2 linked regions of the Homo sapiens genome follow. The protein of the gene in region 1 purifies or fractionates together with the protein of each later gene. This does not show direct contact. Each region holds a gene or a part of one and is shown in the gene's direction. Other genes may lie near its edges.

Region 1 (3,656 bases):
CTAGTAGCTGAGATTACAGGCATGTGCCACCATGCCCAGCTTATTTTGTATTTTTAGTAGAGACAGGGTTTCTCCACGATGGTCAGGCTGGTCTTGAACTCCCAGCCTTGGGTGATCTGCTCGCCTTGACCTCCCAAAGTGCTGGGATTACAGGTGTGAGCCACCACGCCTGGCCAATAATAAACTTTTGTATGAATATGCTGTGCCCTCTTTAATTTTGCTTATTGGAATTGTTTCAATTTTCTCATTGTAAGACATTATGATATTATTTAGTGCTATAATAGTGTGATAATATTTAATATAGTGAAAACCTACAAGTGGTTCGTCTTACTATTCAGTTACCAGACTCCTTCAAGATGATGAGTGGTTCCCTGTATAGATGTATAGTCTTCATCCCTAGTCCTTACCTGAGTGCTCTACAGAGTATAAGGTGAATATGAACTTGTCGAGTAATTAACACCTATGAAGAGAACAAACATTTGAAGTCTTTCAGTGAAATCCCACTCATTTTATTTCTTTAAAGTGTGCTTGCATTGTGGTAGATGGAAAGATTTATCAGTTATGTATCCCACCCTCAATAAGTATGGAAAAGGAGTGCGACGGCAGTATCCGCCACTCCCCAGATTGACGTTCAAGGTGGCTGTGGCATAAGAAACCTGACTTGTTTTTTCCTGCCTGGTGTTGTGATATCTCTCAGAAGTTGTTAAATTCTCTCTTTGTTTCAGCAGTCAATGGCAGTAATCCTGAAGGTGAAGATCCTGAGAGGGAACCTGTAGAAAATGAAGATTATAGAGAAAAGTCTTCAGATGATGATGAAATGGATTCTTCCTTGGTCTCTCAGCAGCCTCCCGATAACCAGGAAAAGGAACGACTAAATACATCCATTCCACAAAAAAGGAAAATGAGAAATCTGTTAGTTACCATTGAGAATGATACTCCTCTAGAGGAACTCTCAAAATATGTAGACATCAGTATTATTGCCCTTACTCGAAATCGGAGGACAAGGAGATGGTACACTTGTCCACTGTGTGGGAAACAGTTTAATGAAAGTTCTTACCTCATTTCCCACCAGAGGACCCACACTGGAGAAAAACCCTATGACTGTAATCACTGTGGGAAAAGCTTCAATCATAAAACAAACCTCAATAAACATGAGCGAATTCATACAGGAGAGAAACCTTATTCCTGTTCTCAGTGTGGAAAAAACTTCCGTCAGAATTCTCATCGGAGTCGTCATGAAGGAATCCATATAAGGGAGAAGATATTTAAGTGTCCAGAATGTGGGAAAACCTTCCCAAAGAATGAGGAGTTTGTGCTTCATCTGCAGAGTCATGAGGCTGAGAGACCATATGGTTGCAAAAAATGTGGGAGAAGATTTGGTCGGCTGTCAAACTGTACCCGGCATGAGAAAACCCACTCAGCCTGTAAGACCCGAAAGCAGAAGTAATACTGGGAACCCTTTCTGGGTCTGATGGTGCTGCCTCAACCTGAGAGCTTTCATAAGTAGTTCTGAATTCCCAAGCTGCCTAAAAAGGTATAAATGTGTAAAAATCTCATTATTGCCAAAATTGGATAAATGCCCATCTTAGCTAAAACCTCAAATTGCTAGAAAATTCACAGGGAAGAAAACATTTCAAGGGCTATACCTCAGCATCTAGGCTTTTTGGACTAAGGAGCTTTCCTTTTTGAAGTTATATGATAATGTACAGGTCACAGATCCCCTTTCCCAACACTTTGAAGATGAATCTGGAGTCTGCTTACTTGGAAGGCAAAGAGTGACTTGTGTCTATTGAAAGTATATCCGTTTTCCCCCCACATGGGGATTCATACTTGAGAAATAGTGCAAAGATGCTTATCTGGAACTGTGTTCTGGTGAAAGAACCAAATTACTGGCTTGTTAGCCAACAGCTTCTGATAGCAATTCATATAACCCTCTAAGAATACCTGTTTAAGTCTTGAGTGTTGAAAGGAATTGTTTACTTTGGAATATAGGAAAACAGTTGAATGTCAGACTCTCATTTGTATGTGATCTAAATTTGCAATCAATTTCAATAATATTTACAATTTGTGATAAAACTGACTTTTACAGATTCCTTTTCACAACATAATTTAGGTGTCTACTGTTCTTATTGTATTTTGTTCTGCTGTTGATCTCTCCAGCAGCCGTCTCATGCTTCTCCCTTGCTAAAAGAAGTTTGGATTACTCAGGCAGGGCCATCCAGCCCCACCACTAGAAAAGCTCTTCAGAATCTTGTCCCTCTGTTGAGCCCAGATCTCATGTGCTACGAAGGAAACCCCAAGACCCAGAGAGGAAGGGTCAACCTGGAGGCAGGAAAAAGTTGGCTTGGATCCATGTCTCATCAATAACCTTACCATATGCTTAGGTCCCCTCTATGCTGTCATCAGACCTTTGGCAATGGGGTGGTCACTACCTCACAAGGCAAAGTGTTGTATGATTAGAAATTACGTCTCCAGTGGTTAGCTCACATTGCCTCTCAAGAGACAGGTTTCCAGGTGTCTTCATTGTAGTGGGTATTAATTGTCTTCAGCCTCTTGATATCCATACCTTCCTGTCCTCTGCCTAGAAGCAAGGCCAGCGGTGCCTTTACGGACTGATCGTGTGGTGCGATTTAGGGATTCTTCAGTTTTGCTTGCTTTAGGTTTCCAAAAGTTATACATTGGTGTTTTGATTGGAATAAAGAAATCCTATAAGCTATTTGGGAAAAATTATAGTGTATGTTTCCCATCCAGAAACATGCCTTTCTATTTATTAGAGTATTATATTCCTGTGAAAATTTTTCTAATTTTCTTCACTTGTTTTACACAATTTTGTTATTGTAGTTTTTTCCATTATATTTTTATAGTTGATTATTGCTTTTACATGGGAAAGTTATTTTTAATTATATATTTGTATAGTCATCTCACTGTTGTTAATTTTCAATAGTTTGTTGGTTTAGTTCTGTTAACTTTTGGTAAAATGACACCATCTACAAAGAATAGTTTTTGTTTCTTGCCTTCTGCCTATTGGTCTTTTTTGTTTTGTTTGTTGTTATTAACATGTAATTCTGAGGTTTCTTGTTTTGGCACAAAGCATTCTGAAAGAAGGACATTCTATGATACAGTTCAGTCCTGAATCGTAATTTAAAAACAACAAATCCTCCACAACAGAGAAAGGCCACAGAAAAACTGTCTTTACCAACATTGTATTTCAGGCCAACAGGAAGTACCCTGTAAAGCCAGCAAAGCGAACAAAACAGGCTGCCCACAACGTTATTCGCTTATTTGAAAGTCTGACCAGTGCACTAGGACTGGGATCCTGAACTGTGTTTCCAGAGTCGGCAGGCTGTTACCATGTGCAGTGGACCTGCCTGTGCACCCAGAAAAGTAGCTGCCAGGAAGTGAGTGGTGAGAGAGAGTCTCCACTCACTCTTTGGTACCCCTGCCCAGAGTCGGGTATTTTATCAGTCCTCATGCAGCCATGGCACAGTACCCGAGACAGTTAATTTTTTCTTTGAGACTGGCTCTGTTGATAAGGCTGGAGTGGGGTGATCTTGGCTCGCTGCAACCTCCCGCCTGCTAGGCTCAAGCGATCTTCCTGCCTCAACCTCTTGAGTAGCTTTTCGTTTAAGTGTAGGTGGGTGAAGCCACCACAACCC
Region 2 (3,822 bases), on another chromosome or scaffold:
AGCCATACTCGTTCCTCTTTCCACCACAATGCCTAGCACTGTGTGCCATGTGCTGTGAGGCCTCAATGGCTATTTGTCTAAGTGAATGAAAAGAATACAGTTTTCAGCACAAGGCATCAAAGCTAAGGGTCCGTTGGGTTCCATAGACACCTCCAACCACCTTTAAGCTGTGAGTCCTGGCTTCCTCACCCTGGACTAAAATAAACTTCCACCTTGTTTCTTATTCACTGTGGCTTTGTTTGTTTCTCCTGTATTTTAGGGACCAATGAAGCAGCCATCATTGAAATCTTATCGGGCAGGACATCAGATGAGAGGCAACAAATCAAGCAAAAGTACAAGGCAACGTACGGCAAGGTGATTCCAGGGGTGGTCAGCAAGCTTGCACCCAGCCATGGCCTCAGCCGTCTCGGCTTCCTCATGTCCCCAGGCCACGCAGAATATCTTTATAGCTTTATTGAGTCAGCCCAGGAGGAAAAGTGAAATAACCACTTAAAAGCATTAATGGAGTTCAGAAAAACTGAAATTGCTTTGTTAACTCAATAGCCTGTAAAATCAATACTCTTAAACTCATTTCTTAAATTGACTTCATTTTTCTATGAAGACCCTAGTCTTTTTTTCACTTAATTGGGACTAACTGTACATATGTAGCTAGATCAGTAATTTGAAAATCAGTTTCCACAAGTGGGTCTTTATACAGGAATTTTTCATAAGCGATTGTTACAGAAAACTACCAAAAAAACTCTCCATTTTATTAAGCTATCAACACCTATTTTTCTTTACATTTTCTTTCTTTTCTTTCATTCTTTTTATTGTTGAAAATAATTTTATAGAGAGAAGTCTTCAAGTATGCATTAGGCTTTCTTATTTCTTTATTAATATGTAATGAACACAACTTAAACTTTTCTTAATGTCATTAGAATTATCATTATGCAAAATGAATATCAATTATTATGCTGTATTCTCATTTATATTTTTCAAACTTTTACCATTTCAATCACTGTAGGTATAAATAGATATATAGAAAGATGAAGATGGGTTTTCCTATTTATTTGATACTGAGCAGGTAACAATTGCTTCAGGCCTTGGTCTTTTCATGGATAGAAAGAAGATGATAACTTAGCTCCCTTCTCAGGTTGCTGGGAGAATCAGTCAGGATAATGCCAGCATGTACCAATACAGGAAAAAGCTATGATAGCTATGATTGTTTCCATTTTACAAAATCACACACCTAAAAAAAAAAAAGAGAACCAGGACTCACATCCAAGTCTCACATCCAAGTCTCCTGACTTCAAGAACAGTATCCATTCCTGGAGGACCCAGTGCCATAAATAGAGCTATTTGCTTGTACACTAAATGGCCCAAATGGCTGTGCTTTTGTGCTTTTTCTGCTTCTCTCCTTACTATTAGGTGCGTCAATGTAATTTTTGATGAAAATAAGTGCATCTTCAGTTCAACTGCATTTAATTGAATGCATGAAGCTGAATGTGTGTGTGGTTTTTTTTGTTGTTGTTGTTTTGTTTTGTTTTGAGACGGAGTCTCACTCTGTTGCCCAGGCTGGAGTGTAGTGGCATAATCTTGGCTCACTGTAACCTCTGCCTCCCGGGTTCAAGCGATTCTCCTGCCTCAGCCTCCTGAGTAGCTGGGATTACAGGCACGCGCCACCATGCCCAGCTAATTTTTGTGTTTTTAGTAAAATTTTTGTATTTTAATTTTGGTCAGGCTAGTCTCAAACTCCTGACTTCGTGATCTGCCCACATCAGCCCAAAGTGCCAGGATTACAGGTGTGAGCCACCGTGCCTGGCCTGAAGCTGAATTTTTATCCCTGTCAACATCCCTAACTCCAGTAGCCTCCCAAGACACATTCACCCTACCAATATGAAAAGTCAGTCCAGGCAAGGTGGCTCACACCTGTAATCCCAACACTTTGGGAGGCCAAGGCAGGAGGATCACTTGAGCCCAGGAGTTTGAGACCAGTTGAGACCTTCATCTCTACCAAAAATAAAAAATTAGCTGGGCATGGTGGTGTGTGCCTGTAGTCCCTGCTACTCAGGAGGCTGAGGCTGGAGGGTTGCTTAAGCCCAAGAAGTTGAGGCCTCAGTGAGCCGTAGTTGCACCACTGCACTCCAGCCTGGGTGACAGAGAGAGACCCTGTGGAAAGGAAAGAAAGAAAAGAAAAGAAAAAGAGAGAAAGGGAGGTGGAGAGGAAGGGAGAGAAGGGAAGGAAGGAAAGAAAAAGAAAGAACAAAAGAATGAAAGAGAGAGAGAAAGAAAGAGAGGAAGAAGGAAAGAAAGAAAGAAAAATCGGATACAATGCTTCTTAATCTTTAGTCTTTAGTCTAAAGAAGAGTAAATGGATTCAAACTGAAAGCCTAGGGGCCCTGTTAAAACTTAAATGGGCATGTTCTGGCACAAAACTTTGTGATACTTCATTTGCCAATCATTTGCTTACTTTCTGGTTCTCAGCTGTGTTTCAGAGAACTGAGACTGCCAAACAGATAATCTAGAATCCCAACAACGCAAAGCTAGAAGATGTTAGGTATGATCCAATCTCAGCCCCGTGTCAGTTGACCTCCAAAGAGAATAACCACCCCGTGGTAACAGAGTCAGCAGGAAAACCAGGAGTAGAGCTGAGCTATCCCGAGCCTTCTACTCTGTCCAGTCAGAATGTAAGCACACAAGGATTTGTTTTTATGCCTGTGGCTTGTAAGAGTGGGAAGCTGGGATTTTTCTTCTCTGCAGCTTATATAATGCCCATCTGGCCTGAAAATATATTTCCAATTTTTAGATGACTCCACACCATAGAGTACTGACCACAGACCTGCCTTCACAAGATGCAGTGTTGGCTGGAGCAGCCACTGTGGGGCGGAGGCATAATATAACAGCCCCCTTGTAGGACTGCAGATCCCAGGGCTTTGGACAAAAATATTCCGGGTTTTTCTCCCAGGCCAAGAGCTCAGAGCTTCATTTGAAAAATAGTTGATGTGCCTCCTCTTAGAAAATTTTTTTCAGCATGGGAGATTAATGATAAGCATTTATTGACCGTTTAAAATATGTCAGGCAGTAATGCTCAGTATTGACAAGGATTGTCACATTTAATTCTCCCAAAAACCCTGTGAGGTCAGTCTAGCACTGTCTCCATTTTCTAGAGCTGAAAACTGACAGTTGGTGAGATTAAGTACATTTCCAAGGTCACAAAGGTACTGTGGCTGTGTTCTTTGCCACCATGCCACACTGCTGGGGAGCTGCCCACCCTATGCTATAGTTTGTGTCCTTGAAATGCCAGCTTGTCTATGGGCCTCCAATCTGAGCCATCCCAGGCTGTCGCTCTATGTGAAGGTCTTTGGTTTAAGTTAGGGCATTAACTACTCTAGGTAGGCTGATGCCCATCCTTGACCATTTCTCCTGTTAAACCACATTGTCAGAGGGAGACAGGGAGAAGGTAGTTAGTTTTCTTGTGAAAAGAGGGTGCTCAAAGAAAAGAGGAAGACAGGTGCTTGTCAGAATAGATGGCAGGCTGGGGTCATGGTGGCTCACGCCTATAATCCCAGCACTTTGAGAGGCTGAGGTGGAGGATCGCTTGAGCCTAGGAGTTTGAGATTAGCCTGGACAACATGGCAAAACCCCATCTCTACACAAAAAAATTTAAAAATTAGCCGAGCATGGCAGTGTGTACCTGTAGTCTCAGCTACTTGGGAGGCTGAGATGGGAGGATCATCTGAGCCCAGGAGGTCGAGGCTGCAGTGAGCCATGATTGCACCACTGCACTCCAGCCTGGGTGACAAAGTCACCCTGTCTCAAACAAAGAAAAAAACAGATGCCAGT

The links.
Region 2: the proteins of ZNF200 (region 1) and ANXA13 purify together in Homo sapiens (affinity purification with mass spectrometry; one large-scale study listed by BioGRID and IntAct). This does not show direct contact.

What each region holds. Positions count from the first base shown.
Region 1 is NC_000016.10:3,221,683-3,225,338, reverse strand, and holds the end of ZNF200 (zinc finger protein 200), read left to right. Parts: intron 1-725; coding exon 726-1,447; 3' UTR 1,448-3,014; downstream 3,015-3,656. UniProt on the Homo sapiens protein: Localizes protein arginine N-methyltransferase PRMT3 to the nucleus.
Region 2 is NC_000008.11:123,699,174-123,702,995, reverse strand, and holds part of ANXA13 (annexin A13), read left to right. Parts: intron 1-259; coding exon 260-354; intron 355-3,822.